Linked DNA regions of Homo sapiens: all the other regions are linked to region 1. The links come from fine-mapping of genetic effects on gene expression. A gene starts in region 1. Each other region holds a variant in brackets. All regions are shown on one strand. Distances are from middle to middle. Region 1 holds the start of SAV1 (salvador family WW domain containing protein 1). Region 2 overlaps SAV1 (salvador family WW domain containing protein 1). Region 3 has its middle 47 kb from the start of SAV1. Region 4 overlaps NIN (ninein). Region 5 overlaps MAP4K5 (mitogen-activated protein kinase kinase kinase kinase 5). Region 6 overlaps SAV1 (salvador family WW domain containing protein 1).

The links. PIP is the estimated chance that this variant, and not a neighbour inherited with it, causes the effect.
Region 2: its variant is fine-mapped to the expression of SAV1 in whole blood (TOPMed, PIP 0.98).
Region 3: its variant is fine-mapped to the expression of SAV1 in whole blood (INTERVAL, PIP above 0.99).
Region 4: its variant is fine-mapped to the expression of SAV1 in fibroblasts (GTEx, PIP above 0.99).
Region 5: its variant is fine-mapped to the expression of SAV1 in whole blood (TOPMed, PIP 0.97).
Region 6: its variant is fine-mapped to the expression of SAV1 in whole blood (INTERVAL, PIP 0.99).

What each region holds. Positions count from the first base shown.
Region 1 is chr14:50,665,917-50,670,009 of GRCh38, reverse strand. It overlaps SAV1 (salvador family WW domain containing protein 1), which reads left to right and starts at 1,704. Exons shown (of 5, transcript NM_021818.4): 1 at 1,704-2,136. The coding sequence starts at 2,043. RefSeq lists silencers at 1,467-2,036, 2,147-2,276 and an enhancer at 2,637-2,706.
Region 2 is chr14:50,639,709-50,643,801 of GRCh38, reverse strand. It overlaps SAV1 (salvador family WW domain containing protein 1), which reads left to right. Exons shown (of 5, transcript NM_021818.4): 4 at 2,909-3,052. Among named protein-coding and RNA genes, the nearest start is that of SAV1, 27 kb to the left of the region's middle. The variant A/C (reference allele first, on the strand shown) is at 1,701.
Region 3 is chr14:50,713,252-50,717,344 of GRCh38, reverse strand. No RefSeq gene overlaps it. Among named protein-coding and RNA genes, the nearest start is that of SAV1, 47 kb to the right of the region's middle. The variant G/AG (reference allele first, on the strand shown) is at 1,851.
Region 4 is chr14:50,761,957-50,766,049 of GRCh38, reverse strand. NIN (ninein) reads left to right here. Exons shown (of 31, transcript NM_020921.4): 15 at 2,086-2,224. Among named protein-coding and RNA genes, the nearest start is that of NIN, 67 kb to the left of the region's middle. The variant C/G (reference allele first, on the strand shown) is at 2,517.
Region 5 is chr14:50,424,476-50,428,568 of GRCh38, reverse strand. It overlaps MAP4K5 (mitogen-activated protein kinase kinase kinase kinase 5), which reads left to right. Exons shown (of 33, transcript NM_006575.6): 31 at 2,592-2,662. Among named protein-coding and RNA genes, the nearest start is that of CDKL1, 30 kb to the right of the region's middle. The variant G/C (reference allele first, on the strand shown) is at 1,918.
Region 6 is chr14:50,633,175-50,637,253 of GRCh38, reverse strand. SAV1 (salvador family WW domain containing protein 1) reads left to right here. Exons shown (of 5, transcript NM_021818.4): 5 at 1,870-3,674. The coding sequence ends at 2,071. Among named protein-coding and RNA genes, the nearest start is that of SAV1, 33 kb to the left of the region's middle. The variant C/T (reference allele first, on the strand shown) is at 2,458.

The DNA of each region.
Region 1 (4,093 bases):
CTCCACCTATTATTGCCTGGGTCCAAGCCAGCAATAACTTCTGACTGATCTCCCTTTTGCCCTTAGCTCCATTGTCTACTCTCCACACAGCATCCAAAGCAGTCCTATGAAAACATTAACTCAGATCATGTCACTCCTCTGCTCAAAGTAACATTCCTTACAATGGCCTACAAAGCCCTAGGTGCCGTGGCTATTGTTACTCTCTAACTGCATTCCCCATTCGTCTCCCCGTCTTTTCCAGTACATAAACCCTCTTACTGTTCCTCCAATCTGCCAGGAACATGGCCACTTGCAGCGACTTTGCACTTGCTGTTCTTTCTGCCTGGAATATTGTTCCTCCAGTTAGCTGCATGGCCAATTTCCTCACTCTGTCACTTAACTCCAATGTCACCTCCTCATGAGCCTTCTCTGGTCCCTCTATTACCCTCTCAAAAATTGTGAGTCCTCTCTTATTTTCACTTCATCACTTATCACTATCTAACATAGTATGTTTTGCTTATTTTTTGTCATTTTTTTCTCTTTCCCATGACAGTAGGGATTTTTGTCTGTTTTGCTTATTGCTCTATCACAAACGACTAGCGCAGTGGGTAATGAGTATTTCCTGGTTAATGAATGAATTGTGGGAGATCTGCACCAAGGGAACATATGGAGACAGACACTAGATCAAATGTCTCCTTTGTTTGCTCATGGTAAAACATTTGACCATCTTCTTAATCTTACGTGGTAAAAAATTCCATGTCTTTTGTTAATTGTGATATATGTCTTAGATCTCTTGTGAGATGTTTTAGATCTCAGGGAAAGCATTCCTCATTATTAAAGCATTAATTTGGTCACTAGGGGATGAATCCAATCTTATTTTCCAAATGTTATCCTGTACATTTGGCAGTCTTGCTAAGTTATATAGAAGGAAGTAGAGTCTATTATTTTAGATAGAAAATTCCCGGTCCCGACTCGCAGTGGTCAAAGTCTTCAAAATTCTAAGATCATAACACATAACGTCAGGAGGAAATATGTGGCTATTAATCATACTAATGATAGTGATGATGCAATAAAATAATTGTAATATGCTAACACCAATTGTATCTTAAAAAGAGGTACTGGAAATTCCATCTTGCATTCTTCCGTTTTTTCCTGTTATAGAAAAACGCACTCCCTGATACTCAGTAGAGGATCAACTTATTTCTAGTTAATCAGCATGAACGTTTCCAGCAGAATAGATGCTTTGGTGTAGCACTTGCCTGGGAGTCATGGTTAGCATTCCGCATTTTTTAGAGAGCTGAATTCAGCAGCCTAGGAAACATTAGGAAGAACACCTTCAAACAGGGAACAACGTCTTGGGGGGAAAGAGAGTCACTGCCTCCGCTAGGGATCCCGAGGGGGTACAAAAGCAACAACAATAAAAACTCGTGGAGAGTAGGTTCCACGACATGCGCATGCGACGAACTCCCGCACTCAGCGGGGCAGGTTTCGTCCTTCATCTTCTCAGTCGGCAGGACCTGCTTCTCGCTGAGGATGAGTGAGGACAGCCGCAGCTCGGCGGGGACGGCCCGGTAGCCTAGAGCGCCGGCACCCGAGTCCCGCCGCCGGAGCCGCGCCTGGAGCCGCGGTGGGGGAGGGGCAGCGGCGGCCCGCGCTGCGTCGAGCTTCCCAGAATTCCCAGCGGCCGCGGGGAAAGTTTACGGGATGTAGGCGGCGGCGGCGGTAGTGGTAGCGGTTATTCGGCGGCCCGCGGCGGACCATGGCCCTGGCCCTGGCCCGGCGTCGCTGGGCTTTCCTCACGGCGTCCCCGAGCAGCGTCGCAGAGCGGGCCGACTTCCGGGAAGGAACTGACCAGCGACTGAGCGGCGGCCGGCGCGCTTAGCGCCCTGAACATGCGGCAGTCCCTGCGGGCGACCCCGGGCTCCGGACAGGCGGCGGCGGAGGCGGCGGCTCGGGAGGGAAGGAGGCGGCGGCGCCGGCGGAGGTGGCGGCGGAGACGGCCGGCGCCCGGCGCGGAGCCCTAGGGAGGCAGTTCAGCGCGGCCTCGGGCCTCGTCGAGAAGGATGCTGTCCCGAAAGAAAACCAAAAACGAAGTGTCCAAGCCGGCCGAGGTGCAGGGGAAGTACGTGAAGAAGGAGACGTCGCCTCTGCTTCGGAGTGAGTGTCAGGCGGGGCGTGCCCACACCTGGCCCAGGCGGCCAGGTGCTCCGGGGACCCTGGCGGGGGCGCCGGCGGGTCTCCAGGGCTTCTCCTTCGTCCTTGGTCGCGTGAAATACTGGTTTTGAGATTTTCTTGTGTCTGAAGTGGTATTCGTTGATTGAAAGCCCATAAGAGTAAGAAACTTGGGTTAGTCCCCCCCGCGCCTAACCCCCCCAAGAGCACCCCCTAAAAATAACAGACTTCCTCGCCCCACCAGGCAGAGTTGTTGGTTTTGATTACTGGAAGAGAGAGTAGGAAACATTTAAATTGCTTATCACCTAATGCTATAGGAGTAAAAGTAATTAGACAGGGACACTTTTTACTCTTTTAGATGCGTCGAGATGTGCGTCATGTTTGCAAACATTGCGGGTGTCTCTCGACTGTGCTGCAAGTTGTGCGAACTCTGGGGCAGAATTCCTTAGTCCTGCTGCCGGATGCAGACTTGAGAAGGTGAAAAGCATACCGTCGTTCTTGTAGCCGCCACCCAAAGCCTCATCACTCTTACACAGCAGAGCAGAGAGCCAAAAGCCTTTGTATTTGGCTATATTCGTGAGATTCCAAGAAGGCAACTCAAAATAATTTCTATCGTATTAGAGAACCCCCCCCTCGAAAAGTTTTTTTTTTTAATAGGGTAGATCCCACTCCCAATCCCCACCTCCGGTCCCCCGCTGCTTTTCTTCTTAATGTAAGTATTTGATTTTTGAGTTGAATCTCTTGAATTTTTAATTCTTGTGTGTTCAGGACATTTGTGAGGCATGGAGCTGGTATTTTGGTGCTCTTACTGCGCCCTGGGCCCTTTGCTTAAGTTTCCTTCTTGGAAGCTGGTAGTAACCTTGTGACTTAAGTATTACCTCATATTGTAATTGGGAAAGTTAGGTTTCTAGTATTTGCCCAAGATCACACAGATGGGAGAGCATGTTTTTCCATCATAACCACATTGTCAGCCTTCCAGATTTATGGTGGTACTTGCAATACTTTCAACAAAATATATGTCAGTTGAGTACATCAGTAACTCGAAACTTGATTTTTAAGTTGTTTTTTTTTTTTTTTAACAACTTGATTTTCAGTCACACATGCAGTTAGGTTTCTGGCTGTTTTTAAGTGATAGCTTGCTGTTTGCTGCAAATAAAGTTTATCAGACATTACTTGAAATCGTGAATTATGTTTGTCACACTTTTTATTATACTTTAAGTTCTGGGGTACATGTGTAGAACGTGCAGTTTTGTTAATGTTTGTCACAGTTAAGCAAATAACTTTTGATCTACTTTGTTTTGTTGTCGTTACATCAAGTGTTGAGCCTTATTTATTCAGATATTTGTTTCTGTCCAGTGTTAGTTTCTGAAGCTTATTAATATGAGTGTCTCCAATATTGTTTACTTGATGAATAATAAGAGGGTCTGCATATTCAGGTTTTTGTCTTGTTTTAAAGGTATTTGCTTTCTAACTGGGAATGTCTTAAGCTGTTTTCAAGTTTCGTGTTTAAAAGTACTGTATCCTAAAAGCTGTTGTTCTATTATCTACTATTTTGAATTATAATTACATAGTTTCAGGCTTGGTTTTTTGAGCCACTTCTACATTTGTGTGCTTCTTTGAAATGAGAGCTTTTTATTTTCAATTTTCATACATAAATTTTTGGCTTTCTAGCTTTTGATTACTGTGCTAGTGCTAGGTAATTCCAAGAGAAGAAAGAGCTACTAATTTTTTAATTTTTAAAGGAATCCACTTTTACATATTTGGGAGTAGCATTAAGTTCTATTTTTGAAATTGTGTTTGCTTCAAGAAGGATTTTTGGCAGTTTCTAAAATGAAGTGAGAACAACAAAATAAACTACTTAACTAGAAACTATCAATTTGTTATATTATTTCCTATTTTTATACATTAATTCATGAGCATTTCATTAATGTGTAGTTCATAG
Region 2 (4,093 bases), 26 kb after region 1:
TTATTTTATGTATTTGGATTTATTAATTCAACTTTGAAAATCTGTTTTTTCCCATGATTCCATGTAGTGGCACCCAATCAGTGTTTATTCAACTACTGAGGTTGTTGTCCTTTGAAAGAATCAAACCTGTGGTGTGGTCATCAGGTGGCAATGATTGTTGCAGTCCAGATAACCAGATTTGAGAGTTTACTTTTCTGTTCGTTGACATGGTTTGGCTCTGTGTCCTCACCCAAATCTCATCTCAAATCGTAATCCCCATGTATCAAGGGAGGGACCTGGTGGGAAGTGATTGAATCATGGGGGCCATTTCCCCCATGTTGTTCTGGTAGTGAGTTCTCATGAGATCTGATAGTTTAAAAGTGTGTGGCAGTTCCCCCTTCTTTCTCTCTCCTGCCACCACGTAAGATGTGCCTTGCTTCCCCTTCATCTTCTGCCATGATTTAAGTTTCCTGAGGCCTCCCAATTATGGAACTGTGGGTCAATTAAACCTCTTTTCTTTATAAATTACCCAGTTTCAGGTAATTCTTTATAACATTGTGAAAATAGACTAATACAATCATCATTAACCTTATGTTATTACAGAATTTTAATAGTTTTTTAAAAGCAATTTCATAATTAGTTAATTTACTTCTCTCAGCAACTTGGTAGAAGTTGAACAAGAGAGAATAAACGCTGCCCTTAAGCTCACATATGTAGTATTACTAGTTGTCTGGTTGTCTATCTTAGGCCAATCCTTATACAAAATTCTTGACTTACATTAGGTCATTTAATCCTGAGAACAACCACCTGTGGTATGAATTTATTATTCCACTTTTACAAGTATGGAGGCTGAGGCTTAGGGATAGGAGGAGTTTTGCTTACATTTACATAGTTTGTAAGTGTTAAAGCTGTGGTTCAAATCCAGGCGTACCTGACTTCAAAGTCCCAATTCTTCTTCACCCCCAGTTGTACTATCAAAGAACATTTTCCTTTGAACCTATTTAGGAAAGAAGAGTTGAAGATAGAATTCAGTTCCATTTGCATATTGATCTTTTAAAATTGTTAACCACAGCATAATCTAACCTTATTTTAATCCCAGTTTAGTAAACAGTGACCTTTTCTAATATACACATGCATTTTTTTCTCCCCATTGTTATATATACACCACATTTTCTTTTTTTTCTCCCTAACTTTTATTTTAGGTTCAGGGGTACATGTGCAGGTTTGTTACATGGGTAAATTGCATGGCTTGGGGATTTGGTACAGATTATCACCCGGGTAATAAGCATAGTGTCTGATAGGTAGTTTTTCTTTTCTTTTTTTTTTTTTTTCTGAGACGGAGTTTCACTTTTGTTGCCAAGGCTGGAGTGCAGTGGCGCGATCTCAGCTCACCTCAACCTTCGCCTCCCAGGTTCAAGCAATTCTCCTGCCTCAGCCTTCCAAGTAGCTGGGATTACAGGCATGCATCATGAAGCCTGGTTAAGTTTTGTATTTTTAGTAGAGACGGGGTTTCTGCATGTTGGCCAGGCTGGTCTCGAACTCCCGACCTCAGGTGTGAGCCATCACGCCCGGTCCCTGATAGGTAGTTTTCAATCCTCATGCTTCTCCCATCCTCTGCCCGCAAGTAGGCCTCAATGTTTATTGTTCCCTTCTTTGTGTCCATGTGTACTCAGTGTTTAGCTCCTACCTATCAACATGTGGTATTAGTTTTCTCTTCCTGC[A/C]TTAATTCACTTAGGATAATGGCCTCCAGTTCCATCAGTGTTGCTGCAGACTACATGCTCTTGTTCTTTTTTATGGCTGGGTAGTATTCCATGGTGTCTGCATACCACATTTTCTTTATCCAGCCCACCATTGATGGGCATTTAGGTTGATACCGTATCTTTGCTATTGTGAATAGTGCTGCAATTAACATGTGCACACGTGTTTCTTTATGGTAGAATGATTTCTATTCCTTTGTAGAAATAGTCCCATTAATGGGACTGCTGGATTGAATGATAGTTCTAAGTTCTTTGAGAAGTCTCCCAACTGCTTTCCACTGTGACTGAACTAATTTATGTTCCCACCAGCAGTGTATAAGCATTCATTTTTCTTTGCAACCATACCAGCATCTGTTATTTTTTGACTTTTTAATAATAGCCATTCTGATTGATGTGGAATGGTATTTATTTCATTGTGCTTTTGATTTGCATTTCTCTAATAAGCAGTGATGTTGAGCATTTTCTCATATGCTTGTTGGCCACATATACACATAAATCTTTATGTTTGAAGGTGCAGACCCCTTTTGGTCTCAAATAGACCCTTTTGGCCGCTTCGAGTTCAGCTATTAACCTTCAGGTGGTTCAGTGCTTTCCTTACACTTTCCCATATAATATCTCCACTCCCCACAGCATACACAGGCTATTAGAACTAAAGTATGGTCTTTTTTTTTTTTAATCTCTGTGACTTAAAATAGGTTCTGATCAACTCTGACTCCCATATGTTCTCTTGAGTTGGTAAAAGTTGAAAAGTTATCTGCATTGGATAGAGATATTTCAAACACAATACTCACTGCTGCGTCACTACATATCCTAACCCCCATTTTCAGCCTACGGGAGGAAGGAAACATCCTTTCTTAGAAACTGTCAACCTTTCTGATATGAATTTACAGCTGATGACTATTTCTTGTGGGAATTTACTATTCTAGTTTTAAGCCTTTGTATAAAGGTTAAAACTTAGTTCCAGCTTTTTCATATCCTCCTTTGAACCTGTTTTTGAAAAGACTAAATACCAGCCAGAAGAAATATCTTAAAAATACATTACCTTTCAGGTGGTGTAAGTCAGTTTGGACAGAAGGCACACTGAAAAATGCTTAAGTATTATTTGTTCTTTATAATTTCTTGTTTAGATTTTAAGACCTTTATCCTAAAGAATGTCACTCCTTTCTTCTTAGTGTACCTCGGTATGATCAACCACCTCCTGTCACATACCAGCCACAGCAAACTGAAAGAAATCAGTCCCTTCTGGTACCTGCAAATCCATATCATACTGCAGAAATTCCTGACTGGCTTCAGGTTTACGCACGAGCCCCTGTGAAGTAAGTACATTTACAACACAAATTTGTTTGAGGAGTGAGTGAAGGGCTGAATGGAGTCTCTGGGCTGCTCGATCCAAGTAGTGTGCCATATTTTACTCTTAATAATATTCGGCTTCTAAGTAATACGTGACTTGAATAAAGGATGTCATAGTTTATAATGTGTGAAAATCATTAATTAGAAATATTAGTTCTTCAGACATTTATAGAATCTTCATTTCTTTGTGTGCGGGCCTCTGCTATTAGGGATACAAGTAAGAAACTTACATTCTCATAGGAGAAGATTAATTTGTAAATAAGTGATACAGTACTTGTGATAAAAGTAAGGACCTGGGCTTGGCACAGTGGCTCACACCTGTAATCCCAGCACTTCGGGAGGCTGAGGCAGGAGGATCTCTTAAGTCCAGGAGTTCGAGACCAGTCTAGGCAACATAACGAGAGCCCCATTTCCACAGAAAAATTTTAAAAATTAGCCAGGCTTTTTGCATGGTCTGTAGTCCCAAGTACTTGGGAGGCTGAGGTGGGAGGATAGCTTGATCTGAGGAGTTCAAGTTCAGCCTGAGCAACATAGCAGGACTCTGTCTCTATAAAAAATTTAAAAATTAGCAGCATGCTGTGGTGTATGCCTGTGATCTCAGCTACTTGGGAGGCTAAGGTGGGAGGACTGCTTGAGCCCAGGAGTTTGAGGCCGCAGTGAGCTATGCTTGTGCCACTGCACTCCAGCCTGGGTGACAGAGCATGAGAGACCCTGACTGCCCCCCTACTAGTGCCAGAAAAAGGAATGATAGCAGATGGCATTTTCTTTCCTATTTTCCTCTTTTCTTTGTCCCTTGATACCACCTGACCTACAGCTGTATGTTTGTATGCTGATTCTAAATAGTACATAATATCTGTATGCGTTTTTATTTTCCTTAAATCTGGAAGAATATGTGCCTAACTGTTAACCTTAGTATTTCTGGGGGTGGATATGGTTGAGGAGAGTTATTCTTTCTGTTGTATGTTATTTCTACTCTATAGTCATGTTTAATAAGAAATAGCATAATC
Region 3 (4,093 bases), 47 kb before region 1:
CGCCTCCCAGGTTCATGCCATTCTCCTGCCTCAGCCTCCCGAGTAGCTGGGACTACAGGCACCCGCCACCACGCCCGGCTATTTTTTTGTATTTTTAGTAGAGACGGGGTTTCACTGTGTTAGCCAGGATGGTGTCGATCTCCTGACCTCGTGATCCACCTGCCTCAGCCTCCCAAAGTGCTGGGATTATAGGCATGAGCCACCATGCCCGACTGATATATGCAACTTATTCTTAAATGATCCAGAAACAAAATTACCCAGGCATGTGCATACACGTGTGAGGGAGAATGTGAGAGAGTGAGAGAAATAAGGCAATGAAGCAAGGATTATTTGTATTATCATTGTAACCCTATTTGTAAGTTTGAAATGATTTCCAGTTAAAATGTTTGAAGTGTTATGGATAAAAAAATGTACTAAGTGTGGTGTCAAGCACCTTAATCTTCCTTGCCCTTCTAGCTACTCTGAAGAATAGATGGTATTCTGAGTAAAAACTCACTAGAAACCATTTATGCTAGCCTAACCATACACCTATAGTTTATTATGAAAAGTTCAGCACTGGCCAGGCACAGTGGCTCACGCCTGTAATCTCAGCACTTTGGGAGGCAGAGGCAGGTGGATCACAAGGTTAGGAGATTTGAGACCATCCTGACTAACACGGTGAAACCCCGTCTCTACTAAAAATACAAAAATCAGCCGGGCATGGTGGCGCGCGCCTGTAATCCCAGCTACTCAGGAGGCTGAGTCAGGAGAATCGCTTGAACCCGGGAGGCGGAGGTGGCAGTGAGCCAAGATCGCACCATTGCACTCCAGCTTGGGTGACAGAATGAGACTCCTTCTCAAAAAAAAAAAAAAAAAAAAAGTACCATATTCAGTGCTGTCTAGTGACAAGTGTGGTCACTCATCTTAGCACTATTTCTCATATCATTCCTTCTTTTGTCCTTGCCCTCTCCCCACCCCTTTGTCCTGATTCCTATGTATTCTCCAGATACTACATGTAAATTTAACAGTGTCCATGCAAGTCACAGTGGGTATAAGCAAGAACCAGAGGTGGATGTGGGCAGATGGTTGATGTGTATGAAAACTGGTAGGGTCAGTGTTTGGGAGTAAAGGCTTTTTTGAAGTGGAGATGCTAAAGTAGATTTGTTGGAAATATTTTTTCTTAAATGATGGTCAAAAAGCAGGATATTTAAAATAAGCAATTCTGAGGTAGTTCACATAATGGTGAAGTGGGTAAAAGAAAAAGATCACAAGACATTAGAAAAAAATCAATGATCTGAAAGTCCAAGATTTGGAATTGCCTTTCCCTGACCCCGCCCCCATCATTTCATCAAATCTGTACTTGCCAAGGTTACCATGAACCTCTTAAAGTTGCCCCACTCCAACCTGCTCTCCCCACACAGCCTCCAAATAGGATTCTTCTAAAATAAGACTGAATGTCACACTACTGTTTAAGAACACCCCATGTCCTCAAGTCTCCATTCTTTTTTAAATCGACAAATAAAAATTGTACATATATATCTTATGCAATGTTTTGAAATACATATACATGGCTGGGCACGGTGGCTCACACCTGTAATCCCAGCACTTTGGGAGGCTGAGGCGGGCGGATCACGAGGTCACGAGATCAAGACCATTCTGGCTAACATGGCGAAACCCCATCTCTACTAAAAATACAAAAAAAAAAAATGAGCGGGGCATGGTGGCAGGCACCTGTAGTCCCAGCTACTCAGGAGGCTGAGGCACAAGAATGGCGTGAACCCGGGAGGCGGAGCTTGCAATGAGCCGAGATCGCACCACTGCACTCCAGCCTGGGCAACAGAGCAAGAGTCCATCTCAAAAAAAAAAAAAAA[G/AG]AAAAAGAAAAGAAATACATATACATTGTGAAATAGCTAAATTGAGCTAATTAACATATATAACCTCACATTCTTATCACTTTTGTGGTGAGAATACTTAAGATTTTAAATTCTTAAGAATACCTTCTGATTAATTCATAAAGTAATAATTAGTGAATTTAGCCATACTAAACTCTGTTTGGCTTCTCAAAGGGCAACAGTATCTCTTGCTATGTTGTCTATGTATTGAGTAGGAGGAAAAGGCAGGACAAATAGTTGCTTCCAGTTAACCATCCTCCCCTTCCTCCTTAAAAAAAAGAAGGCTGAAATTTGACCATGCATGTTATTACCCAGCTATAAGACTATATTCTCTAGCCTCTTTTGCAGCTAGATGTGACCATGTGACTAGGTTTTGGCCACTGATATGCAGGAGGTCTGGGAAGACTTCTTAAAAGAGGGGATAAGCTGGCATGATGGCATAATCCTATAGTCCCAGCTACTAGGGAGACTGAGGCAGGAATGTCACTTAAGCCCAGGAGTGTGAGACCAGCCTGGGCAGTATAGTGAGATCTTGTCTCTAAAAATTTTTTTTTTTTTTAAATTTAGCCAGACACAGTGCCTGCAGTCCTAGCTACTCAGGAAGCTAAGGTGGGAGGATCCCTTAAGCTCAGGAGTTTGAGGCTGCAGTAGCTATGATTACTACACTGCACTCCTGCCTGGGCAACAGAGCAAGACCCCATCTCCAAAAATAAAGAGGGGGAATACACCTGTTTTTGTTCCTACTGCCTAGAGTGAAGATGATGATTGAAGATCTAGCAACTATGTTGGACCATAAAGATGAGGGCCACCTCCTATAGATGGCAGTGTAGAGAGCTGGAAAGAGCCTAGATCTCTGACAAATTCATTTAGCTATCATGTGAGGCCTCAATTCCTTCTGGACTTTACGAAAAAGGAATAAACTTTTAGTTGTTTAAGTAACTATTATTTTGGATTTTCTTATTATATGCAGCCAAACCTTATCCTAATTGAGACCTAGAATTAGTTGGATATCGGGGAAGGATAAAGTGGTCTTGATTTTCCAGCCTGACCCTAGAGAAGATACAAGATGTATGCAATTCTAGAAAAGATGAAGTCCAAGAAAGGTAGAGTTTAGTTCTACGGTTGGTTTCCTGAAGAGAACAGGGCAATTTTCACGTTTAAACGTGATACATCCACCTGGGGAAAGAAAAAGTGGTAGAATCTTGCGGGGGAGAGAAAGCAGCAGCAGTAGCCTGCAGTGGTGGAAGCTAATTAAATGCAGCAATTTTATTTTTATATTGATGCCCAGGGTGACAGCCCTTGGATTCCACTTTTCAAGCAGTACTAAATTGGCTGTACTTTGACCCTGAAATAAGACTGCGCTTGTCTTCATTGACCAGAGATAACTGGAGAAGTAAACATGTGGTATTGGGGAGAAGAAACTGACATTACTGCTCCTAAGATTTCCAATAGGTGTCTGAAAATGGGGGCTTTAGAAAAGAAGCCACGAGGTTTTTGCCCACAGAACAGTATGATCTGGACATAGGCACAAAGAGTTTTCTACAGATGTTCCCATCTACTTAGGAATAGCGATTCACAGTGGAACCTATAAGAGGAACCCCCAAACAAGTAGTAGACAACAAATGAGTACACCTTTGAAGATTTCCTTTGAAAAGATTATTTAAGCTTCTTTATACTTTCTAGAAGTACAAAGTACAAAATTAACTACAGGGTTTTTATTCCACTCCCTTCCCCTAGTTAGACATCTTTTCTCCACCTTAGCCCACAAGGTGATCACTTCACTGGCTGGTAAATTGTCCATTGCAATCTGTAAATGAGCCAAGATTGCTGTGTGCTTTGCTCAGGCCATTCCTCTCATGGCTATGATACCACTGACAGGGAGATATATAATATATATGTAGAGAGAATATATACATTTGTATATTACAGTATAATATATACATTTCCATATTATATATTTGTATATAATATACAAATTCAAGCCTCATTACTACTGATTTTCCAACAGATCAATCCCAAGCAGTAGGCTATAATTAGAAACAGATTAGACATTCCTTGTTGCAGTCATCTACCTACCTCCTGGCCACCTCCCTCACTGATTTTAGAACTTGGGTCACTGTCTTTTTCTCACTACTACCTCTATCACTACTCTTAGTGCTTTCAATATCTCATATTTGATATATTTGAATTGTGGAGAGAAAGATGAGACCACACTCTACCTTGTC
Region 4 (4,093 bases), 96 kb before region 1:
ACACAGGAAGGGGAATATTACACTCTGGGGACTGTTGTGGGGTGGGGGGAGGGGAGAGGGATAGCACCGGGAGATATACCTGATGCTAGATGACGAGTTAGTGGGTGCAGCGCACCAGCATGGCGCATGTATACATATGTAACTAACCTGCACAATGTGCACATGTACCCTAAAGCTTAAAGTATAATAAAATTAAAAAAAAAAAACATAAATGTTAGCTATTAACATTATTATTCAAAAATTAGCCTTTCCTGATTGATCATTGCAGATCTAATCTGACGTGATTTGGTTTTGTCCTGTGGGTTTTTTTTTTTCTGAATACATTTTTTACTCCATTTATTTATAAAATGCAAATGAAACAGAAAACCACTCAAGTCTTAGCTAGTAAATCATTCCCAATTTCGGCCAGGAGAGATGGAAACATTTTTACAAGTAACAAGAATCTTTGATTTTAAAAAAATTCCCCTAAAGTTAGGAATTTGAATTTTTTTCTTAAACCAGAAACACGTGTTTATTTTAATGAGACAAATATAACTGAGTTCCAGCTACTTAGATAAAAAGTTTAATTGTGCAGAGATGAGTAAAACAATCATATTATGAAGTTACTTGCAGCCCTCCTTTTCAGGAAATATACATACATGGTTAAGAAAACATTTCTACTGCTTTTATAATTAAATTTTAGCTCTTGGTTCTAATTAAATAGAGGTATTTTCTAAATGTCTTTACATTTAATGAATTCATCAGTAAAAGCTGTCAGCTCTACCTTCAGAAATTCCCCCAGTTCATCCACTTGTTTTCTTTCTTACTTTTTTTAAGACGGAATCTAGCTCTGTCACCCAGGCTGGAGTACGGTGGTGTGATCGCAGCTCACTGCAACCTCCACCTCCTGGGTTCAAGCAGTTCTCCTGCCTCAGCCTCCCGAGTAGCTGGGATTGCAGGTGTCTGCCAAACGCCTAATTTTTTTTTTTTTTTTTTTTTTTTTTTTTAAGTAGAGACAGGGTTTCACCATGTTGGCCAGGCTGGTCTTGAACTCCTGACCTCAGGTGATCTGCCCACCCAGCCTCATCCACTTGTTTTCTTAACAGCTTTATACACTATATGTTTTACCCATTGAAGGTATAAATTCAGTCTTTTATTGTATTGACAGAATTGTGCAAACATCACCGCATTCAATTTTAGAACATTTTCATCACCCCAGGAAGAAACCCCTTCTCCACTTAGCCATAATCTCTCCCAAGCCCCCTAGCTCTAGGCAATTATTAGTGTACTTTGTGTCTCTACAGATTTGCATATTCTATACATTTCATATAAATGGAATCTTACAATATTAGCCCTTGAGACCGGCTTCCTTCATTTAACATAATGTTTTTAAAGTTCATCCATGTTGTAGCGTGTATCAGTTCTTCATTTCTTGAATAATATTCCATTGCGTAGATATACCACATTTTGTTTATTAATTCACCGGTTAAGGGACATTTGGGGGATTTTGGCTATTATGAGTAACGCAGCTATGAAAATTTGTGCGCACGTTTTTGTATGGGCATATATCTAGGAGTAGAATTGCTAGGTTGTATGGTAACCCTATGTTTAACCGTTTTAGGAACTGCTAAACTTCTTGCAAAGTGGTTGCACTGTTTTATATTCCCACTAGTATGATAGTTCCAATTGCTCCACTTCTTCACCAACAGTCGTTATTGTATGTCTTTTTGATTCTAGCCACCCTAGTAAGTGTGAAATGGTATCTTATTGTGGCTTTGATTTGTATTTCCCTGATAGGTAATGATATTGAATATCTTTTACATGTATGTATTAGTCATCTGTATATCATCATTAGAGAAATATCAATTCAGATCATTTGCCCATTTTTAAAATTGTCTTATTATTGAGCTATAATAGTCTTTATATATTCTAGTTACAAGTCCCTTATCAGATACTTAATTTGCAAAACATTTCTACTTTCTTGATAGTGTCCTTTGAAGCACAAAAGATTTTGTTTTGATGATATCCAATTTATCTTTTTTGTTGTTGTTGTTGCTTATGCTTTTGGTGTCACATCTAAGACCAGTGTTGGTTTTTAAATCCCAGGTACTACAAGACCAAGTAGATGAACTCCAGTCTGAGCTGGAAGAATATCGTGCACAAGGCAGAGTGCTCAGGCTTCCGTTGAAGAACTCACCGTCAGAAGAAGTTGAGGCTAACAGCGGTGGCATTGAGCCCGAACACGGTAAACACATTCGGACAGGCTGTAGATAAAGCCTTTACTCTTGTTTTTAGAAACGTGGTTCAATATAAAATTGCAAAGCTTTGGCAACTTGAAAAAAGAAAAAAAAAAAAAAGAATTTGGCCATACTCTTTTCTTGAGCTGTTTCACTTGTGGTCTCGTTTTTCATTTGTCCTTGAAGTTTTTATGAGAACATTTCCATCTGATTTTGATATGCGTCAACAAAGGAATGGAAGAATCAAACCACAAGGGTATTTGCTTTGTTAACAAAACAAACAAAAAACTGGCTGCAAAT[C/G]TGGGAATCCAGGCCTTGGGAGTGTTAGAATTCAGACACTGAGCTATTGCTGTCCTCTTCGAAGAGAGTGTGTAACTCATATGAAGATGGTTTTGGAGAGCAGGCCAGCCAGATACTACAGAATCCATAGCTGGTTTTCTTATACGGGCTGTGCTGAATGTCTGTATTGCCTCAGCAGAACAAAGAAGATAAATAAGGGCTGGCCTCCTGGCCTTTGAGGAAGATTTTGAGTGGCAAGTTTGGAAGGCAGAGTTTGGGAGCCTCCTGCATTAACTATGAGCTCCTTTCCTCTCTCCTGATAGCCTACCTCTTTTCTCGGGGGTGTTGAGTTTAAATTTCAGAGACAGCTCATAATCAGTTATTCTGTTATAAATAACTTTCCCCAGTGCTATTGGGGATAGGAGTGTCGTTCTTACACAGGTTGTTTATTCCTCCTCTTACTGCAGAATAATTAACAGATTGGGGAAGGAGGAGACAAAGAGGCCTTAAGACCTCCCCTCTGATTCTTAGCTCATTCCAGTCTGAGGATCTCATAATATGATATATCTCGGCAGCTGTTATGGACTTTTCCATAGATGGCCAAGTGTTGGGGTTGTTCCTCATGAGGACAAGAAGCTGTACCATCGTGGTGTGGCTCACACCCTGGGTGTTACTTCTCATTTGGGAATATGCCATCAAATATGAAGAGAAGACCCAAAGCAAGACTGCCAGTTGCAGCTGCTAGACATATACCCAAGAAAAGTTCCTTTCTTCCATCTGCCTGTGTATCCCCACATGCAAAGCTATTTTGGGTCCCACTGCCTTAAGAGATTAGTCATAATCTTTTCTTCTGTGTACAAGCTCAGCCCCCAACTTATGCTTCACATTTTCAGTGTCATTCTCAGTCATCGTCGTGGGCAGTTGCAGAGATGAGCTCATGCATGAGTTAAGAATTTCTACCCACAACTGCCTGTATCCTGGTTCCTAACCTATGCCCTGTTTTTTAAAATTTTAGCTGATAATATGCTAAAATTATGCTGATAATAGCTAAAATATGATAATTTTAGCCAATAATAGCTGATAAGATAAAATGGGGATCTACCCACACTCTAGGAAATTCATAGGAAATAGGCAGTCTTCTGTAATGCTGAGTGATGGGTTGTTGATAGTGTGACCCATGAAGCTAACTCCTCAGGGCATCGCAGCAAGTATGCTGGCCGTTCATTTTCCTGCCACATCGTCATTCAGTATTTGTTGGATGGGTAGGAGTCTGGTTGGTTTGACCAAACTACCTCATGCTATTACCTCAATTTGCAGCATTTGCATTAGGAGGTAGCTACCTATAAGCAACAATTTCCACCCCCGCCGCCCCACCACCTACTATTCTAAGAGATGGATTCTATTAAGGTTTTTTCCACTGCCTGTACATGAAAGAATCTGTTCACCTTCATTTCTTCTTGTTTGCCCTAACGCTTGAAAAGAGAAAAGACTTCTCTTGGCCTCTGTTATTTCCTATTAGTTCACATCTCTGGTAATTCAGGCTGAAAATCATTCCTTAGTTAAACTGGATGTCCCTCCTCAGATGCCACACTGTGTTA
Region 5 (4,093 bases), 240 kb after region 1:
ACAGAAATTTCTGTAAAGATAGAAATGTTCTACGCCTGTAATCCCAGCACTTTGGGAGGCCAAGGTGGGCAGATCACAAGGTCAGGAGTTCAAGACCAGCCTGGCCAACATGGAGAGAAACCCCGTCTCTACTAAAAATACTAAAATTAGCTGGGCATGCTGGCGGGTGCCTGTAATCCCAACTACTTGGGAGGCTGAGGCAGGAGAATCGCTTGAACCCGCGAGGCGGAGGTTGCAGTGAGCTGAGATCATGCCATTGCATTCCAGCCTGGGCAACAAGAGCAAGAAAAAAAAAAAAGATAGAAATGTTCTCTATCTGTGCTCTTAAATACAGTAGTGATTAAACATATATGGCTGTTAAGCACCTGAAACATGATTAGTGCTACATTTTCATTTTTTAGATTTTAATTCAAATTTTAATGTAAATAACAACATGTGGCTTCTTGCTCTCATATTGCACAGTGCAGGTTCAGACCATCATAAATCTTTTATTGTTTCCTGAATATTTAAAACTTGTAATCACTTTTAACATTTCTGTTCATTATTCCCTTTGCTGCATTAAGTGAATTATACTTCCCCCAATTCTTTCCCAGTCAGGAAGGTATTTGTGTGATGCGATAACAGTGTTAGATATGCCATAATTCTTTGCCATGTAAGATTCTGGGTGGTGTGTGTTGATATTACTGCTTTTGGAACTATTTTTATATAAATAGCTAGTTCTCACAGGACTTGTAAACTTTTATGCCATTTAATTTGCTTCCTTGTCAACGAATGTTTTACTCTCTAATACTCATTGGTTTTATGATGAAAATTATTACAGTTTATTATTGTTTGCATGCTCATTGATCATATGTCAGTATCTTCCCCAGGAGTGACAGAACTTGTGAAAAAAATGATGAATGGAAACATTTTTAAACATTTCATGATATGATTCTACCATAAATCAAAGGCACTAAAATGAAGTTGGTAATTTTTATTTGGGCCATAAAAAATAACATGTACTTTATAATTACATATTTTTAAAAACACGATTTTCATTACTTAGTTTTTTATTTTTAAGAAACATTTTAATATGTATTTCTCAATTGGAGTTTTATCCACAAAATGTTTGTGCCTCTGTGTGACATTTTACATGAAAATAGTTTGCTTATGATTGGGAAATTTAATTTATTAAAGCAGAAAACCTAAACTTTCTGTAAATGTCAGGACAAAAGAAATTTTGGAAACTAGTTTCTTCTTTTACTCCTTATATTACATGCCAATTTGGATTTAACATTTTTGAGAGAGATTCTGACATAGGAATCCTTAATTCCTCTTCACTTTCATTGAAACACACTGATACCTCAACTTTTTCAGATGTGCCAAATTATCTTCGTAATTTTAATTGTTACACAAAAGTTTGTTCCTCCTAGGCTACCATCTTTTCTTGCCAGTAAACCTTGGAATAATTACAGGAATCCTCCTGGGGAAAAAAAAATGCCTTTACAACACCTCTTAAAAATAAAATCAGTAACTAGGTTTTTTATTTGTCACAGTTAGTGAAACACATGTGATTTGTCATTGTCAAATACTTTTATTTTTATTGAGCTTAATTATGTTCCCAGAACATTCTTACATTAACTTTTTACAAAAAGTTAATAGTCTAATAAAACAGTTAATTTTCAGTTACTTTCCTCCATCACTTTTAATTATGCTTTTCTAACTCTAATACTTACTTGTAATGGTTAAATACTAAGAATTTTATGTAAGAATTGACTCACAGATCCTAAATATTCAATGTGTGGTTAAATGTTGGATTGTGGGGCAGGTTTATTTTATTTTATTTTTTATTTATTTATTTTGTTTGAGACGGAGTCTCGCTCTGTCGCCCAAGCTGGAGTGAAGTGACGTGATCTCGGCTCACTGCAGCCTCCACCT[G/C]TGGGGTTCAAGCAATTCTCCCGTTTCAGCGTCCTGAGTAGCTGGGGCTACAGGCACAGGCCACCACACCTGGCTAATTTTTGTATTTTTGTAGAGACAGGGTTTCACCATACTGGTCAGGCTGGTCTCCATCTCCTGACCTCAGGTGATCCACCCACCTCGGCCTCCCAAAGTGCTGAGGTTACAGGGATGAGCCACTGCGCCCGGCCAGGTTTATTTTTTAAAATTTCTTTTGTTACAGGGAAAATATGAACATAAAAAATGCTTGTTTAAAGCTACTTCTGAATATGTAACAGTATTTAAACAACAATGCTTTTAATGCAAAAACCCAGTTATATATGTTTTTATGATTTTATTCATTTAAGACAAAAGATACACTGTATCTTTTGTATGAAAGAAATGAATATGCCAACATCCACCTTATCAGAAGTTAGTTCATGTTTAAATGAATGGCTTTTATATGTATCTTTGAAGACTTGCATAACCCTACCTCAGTAAATTACTTGAACTTAGGCATGTCTTAGCCACAAAAATGTTGAGAAATCGTGGTCTAGACAGTGGAATTTTGCACTAGACACTTGAATAGGCTTATATTATTTATTAAAAGTAGAGAAAATTTATAGTGAAATGCTCTGTGCTTTATATTAGTTTCACTTCTCCCTTATCATTTTTAGTATGCCTTCAAGACAGTGTGTTGGCTTTCTGGAAACATGGGATGCAGGGTAAAAGCTTCAAGTCAGATGAGGTAAGCCTTCTCAGATTACCTCCACTGACTCCCACTAACAATTTTAAATGTCGAAGCACTCGTTTTATGCATTTCCTCTCTGAACCTACATTACTGTGTTTAGTGCTTTTAATACTATGAACTGGTAGAACAAAAAAGCCAGTATTTTCCCTTCAACTATGTTCACTTCTGTATCATAGTTCAAAATTCTCAGTGGCCACCAGGAATTGCAAAATATAAGTTCATGCAATTTCATTTATCTAATTTGTAATTTGTAAATATGGTTGCTAAGCTTGTAAAACTTTTCTAAATTTATTAAGTGTTTTCCATAATCTATAAATATCTGGCTTCTTTTTAAATATATTTTAAAATCTAAATTAATACATAATGGAGCATAAGAATAAGGGAATCTAAGAAAATTGACTCATTTAGTAACTATTGAGTACCAACTATGTTCAAGACACTATTATTGTAAATAATATCAAACTTTAAATAATACCTACTGTGTTCCAGGCACTTTACAAATATTTGCTTATTTCAGGCTCAAAATAATCCAGTAGAAGTAGATACTATTCATATTGCCATTTTTACAGCTACAGAGTGGTTAAGTAACTTGCCCAGAGTTACATAACTAGTGAAGTGGAAGAGTCTGGATTTGAAGGGTCTCTTTAAATCACTTCTAGCTGAGATAATTACGTCTCATGCAGGAGATGGGATTTGGGCCTCCAATTTGAGGAATGAGTCCTACTAGCTAAGATAATACTAACAGAGACATTTCACATTTACGTGAATACTTGTGTGATTCTTCTAACTATGGCCTAACAAGTTTGTGAACTTACTTAAAGCTCAAAAACTTCTTCTGTTTGCATTTACCTTTAGTTTTATCCACACTCTTACTTATATATAAATGAATATTCCTACCTCTTATATGAATGCAGAATTAGAATGCTTCCAGGAGGAAATGACATAAATCAGCTGTCTTTGAATATATAAGTTTATCTAGTTACTGATACGTGTCACTAAATGTCACCAAGTCCCTGCACTTGATGAAACCTACAGTCCTACTTATTATCATATGGTTAATTATTCTTAAATGCTATTTTCATTATGTCACTCCTATGGTTAGAAATCTACAGAAGGTCCTTGTTTCTTACTGTATCAAATATTGATTCCATTTCCGAAATATCTATTTTTAACTCTTTTTTTTTTTTTTTTTTTGAGATGGAGTCTCACACTGTCGCCCAGGCTGGAGTGCAGCGGCACAATCTCAGCTCACTGCAACCTCCACCTCCTGGGTTCAAGCGATTCTCCTGCCTCGGCCTCCTGAGTAGCTGGGATTACAGGCATGCACCAACACACCCAGCTAATTTTTGTATTTTTAGTAGAGATGGGATTTCACCGTGTTGGCCAGGCTGGTCTCGAACTTCTGACCTCACGTGATCCACCTGCCTT
Region 6 (4,079 bases), 33 kb after region 1:
TTTCCCATTAAAAAGAACAGAGCTTCCTACCAAAGAAATCTAAATCTATTAATAAATTTGCAGCTCTCAAGTAACTGAGTGAAATTGGCAGTCCAATTAAATATATTTACCTTCCAGTTTTTGCATGTTGTATTACTGACATTTCTGTTACACATACTCAAGTTGAATAGAAACATGTCAAAATGCCAAGTATAGTGGCTCACACTAACTGCTCGGTATGTTTTCTATCTCCCTTTTTTAAAATCTCATTTTAAAATATTAGACAGTCCTTTTGAAAGAAAATGGTATAATATCAAAGAACCACTGGGTAGGAAATACTATAAACGATCATTAAAAATAATGCTAGAGTTTGCAATCAAAGCTTCCTATTATGTCTGCTCTGCAGTATGATTTGAGAGGTATAATTTCGGGTATAACATGCGTTTCCCTAATTCAAGTTCTTTGTCTAGTCTTAGTGGATATTAACATTGAAAACCACTATTTTGAAGCATCTTGGTCCATAGTTCTCTTCCTTTTTGAACTTTTAGTCACTAAGCACTTTTGCAAGAGGTAAAGAGCCTCTTTAGGTTTTAGTGTTTTTCATCTTTAAAATGAGAATATTAATTACAGTGCTGTCTTCATCACATACTGAAATGGAACTATGTAGCCGACTACTAAAGGTACTACTGCTAAGCAGGGATCTACTTACCACTGAAAGACTACTAATGGTCTTCCATGATATATGTAAACAGAATCTTTTGTGAATCCTTCACCACACTGAAGCCTTCTATAGTCTACTCATTCTCTCATTTTAAAAAGTTTATTCTTTCCTTCTTTAGTTTTCCTGTTTGTTTTTTTAGATGCTGTGTACTCAGCCTCAAGAATACTTAGAGCCACGAATTGAGGGTTCCTCTTCATTTCTCCTTCTGTTTGGTTCCTTGTTTGCTGTTGTGAATAGCATTCCTCAAAAAGATGCATCAACATGAATGATGCAAATGACCATCCATTTTTGTGCATTATCATTTGCAAGCACAATATGGTCTAAAGTATTCTTAAGTTCCTGACAGTTAACTTTTGATGAACTTATAAGTAGCACAAAATATGTTCTTCAGAAATTATAGAACCACTGTAGTTTGAAATCTGTGTTCAAGGTTGTCTGGTGTTAATATTAGAATAATGGGTAATTTAAAGAAATAGGTATTCTTTAACTTAAATTGAAATGAAGTAATATTAGCAGTTTTCTCCTTTGCTTAGAAGAATTATATGTAGGCCGGGCGCGGTGGCTCCCAAAGTTAATCCCAGCACTTTGGGAGGCTGAGGTGGGCGAATAACGAGGTCAGGAGATTGAGAACCTCCTGGCCAACATGGTGAAACTCTGTCTCTACTAAAAATACAGAAGTAGCTGGGCATGGTGGCGCATGCCTGTAATCCCAGCTACTTGGGAGGCTGAGGCAGGAGAATTGCTTGAACCCGGGAGGCGGAGGTTGCAGTGAGCTGAGATCACGCCACTGCACTCCAGCCTGGTGACATAGCAAGACTCTGTCTCAAAAAAACAAACCAACAAAGAATTATATGTAAATAGCAGTTAATAACTCAGATTTTTAAAAAACTGATTTATTTATTTTTAGAAACAGGGTCTTGCTATGTTGCCCAGGCTGGCCTCAAACTCTTGGGCACAAGCAGTCCTCCCACCTCAGCCTCCCACCTCAGCCTCCCAAGTAGCTGGGACTATAATAGGCGCCACCACTGTGCCCAGTTATTTTTAATTAAAACTTATGGTTTGTTTAGTTATAAATAAAGTTGACATTTTAAAAAACAGACTAGTTTCTTGCTAGAAATACATGTTTATGTATGTGTTGTGAACATATATATGATTGTGTTTTAAAACAGATATGACCACATTCTGAAGTGGGAACTCTTCCAGCTGGCTGACCTGGATACATACCAGGGAATGCTAAAGTTGCTCTTCATGAAAGAATTGGAGCAGATTGTTAAAATGTATGAAGCATACAGACAAGCCCTTCTTACAGAGTTGGAAAACCGAAAGCAGAGACAGCAGTGGTATGCCCAACAACATGGAAAAAATTTTTGAGCTGATTTTTTAAAAATTTAAGTTTTGTAAGAGCTTTAAAATATTTTCACAGATAAAAAATTGCAAACAAGTACTCTGGTTAATAAATGCTGCTTCCTTTGTGGAAATTATAAAATTCTAACTTTACATGTATTTTGTTATTAGAAATTTTCTTTTATTGAATGAGAAAAATTAGTCTATCATTTTAAGAGCCAATATGGCAAACACTTTCAAATACTGTATATTAGGAAACTGTTTTGGTATTCTTGATGGAAAAAAACGCAGCGGAAATGTCATTATGAACAGATGTTAAATAGGAAATTATTACTTGTTAACTTCTTACAGCAGTAGTACCTTCTTTAAAAAAAAAAAAGAATCTGCGGTATTTTTTTAAAAAAAAAGTTTAC[C/T]GCTGTAGTGTGAAATATTGTCTGGAAAGGGATGGTTTAAATATTACCATGATGTAGTTGAAATATAAAATAGGATTTGGAACCTTATTGTGATAAATATTTATATATGATGTATGTTTGTCTCCCCTCTCCAAAGTAAGGAACCCAGCTGGGCGTGGTGGCTCACTCCTGTAATCCCAGCATTTTGGGAGGCCGAGGTGGGTGGACCGCTTGAGTCCACGAGTTTAAGACCAGCCTGGGCAACATGGTGAAGCCCCATCTCTACAAAAAATACAAAAAAATTAGCCGGGTATGATGGTGTGTGCCTCTAGTCCCAGCTACTTGGGAGGCTGAGGTCAGAGGATGGCTTGAGCCCAAGAGGCAGAGGTTGCAGGGTCAAGATCGCACCACTTGCACTGCAGCCTGAGAGAGAGAGAGCCAGACCTTGTCTCAAAAAATAAAAAATAAAAAAATAAAAACAAAATAAGGAATCCTTTTAAAGCATGTTGAGAAAGTATTTTTTGGTATGAATGGGTGACGGGCCTTTTAATCTTTCAGGAATACATATAAGCAGGAATACTTAGCCTGTATTGGGAAGGTGCGTGAAACTCAAAGTTGCTAACATCATCTTCCTTATTTTCAGCCAGTGCTGTTACTGCATTTAGCATGGCTCTGACGAGGCAGTGGAGAGTTCCTGACAGCATAGCATACTGCCTTCTGACAGACTGGGTTAAGCTACCAAAAATGACAACCAGGGATTCAAAAAAAATTTTTGGTCATTAAATCGAATGTATATTATTACTTTTTAATTTTCTAAGTATTTATCACAGGACTTTAACACCATATATTTCCCTCCCAGTTTTTCTCCCCTTTTGGTTTAATAGTTAAAACATTTTTCATAATTAGTGCTGTACATTTGATTGCAAACAAATTGGTGATACTTCTAAACTATAACTATAAATCTCTAGAATTCTGTGAATTTCAACATTATTTGAAGTAGTTCTTCAGTTATATTTACATGTGTTGTAAATATGTAAATATACTTTTAGCTTAGGAAGTCTTCCAGAATACAAACTACTCCCAGTTAGATATCAGTGAGTTTGAATAACTGAAGAAATGTTGACAATGTTAAGTGTTTGATTTTATATAACAAGCTTATTAAATATATTTTTGTGGAAACTAAGCGCGTGGTTTTTGAGTCCATGTTTTAGACATAGTGCTGTATTTCATTTTTCTGTTCAAAAGGCCATAGACAAAGGAATCAATATAATTGAAAGGGGTAATGAAAAGGGGTATTGAAAAATGAAAGTGTGGCTAGTGGAATTTTATCACTGGGAAAAGATAATTTGCTGAACTTGTGATCAGACTTTTCTAAGATGTCAGTATATATATCTTATGAACTCCCACACTCCTCTATCTTAATTGTTCTTTCCTGTCACTTCTTACTTTATATCGCTACTTAATTATGGTGTAGCCATTTCTGTGACAGTCTTTAGAAGTTTCTCTGTTTTGGACCTCCTAGATAAGTATTACTTTTTTCATTAACACACTTTCCTTCTTCCTCTAAGAAGTCTGTTCAGTGAAACTCCACTAGAGATTTTAGTCATTAAGAACTAGAAGTTACCTAAAGGAATTAGCATGTT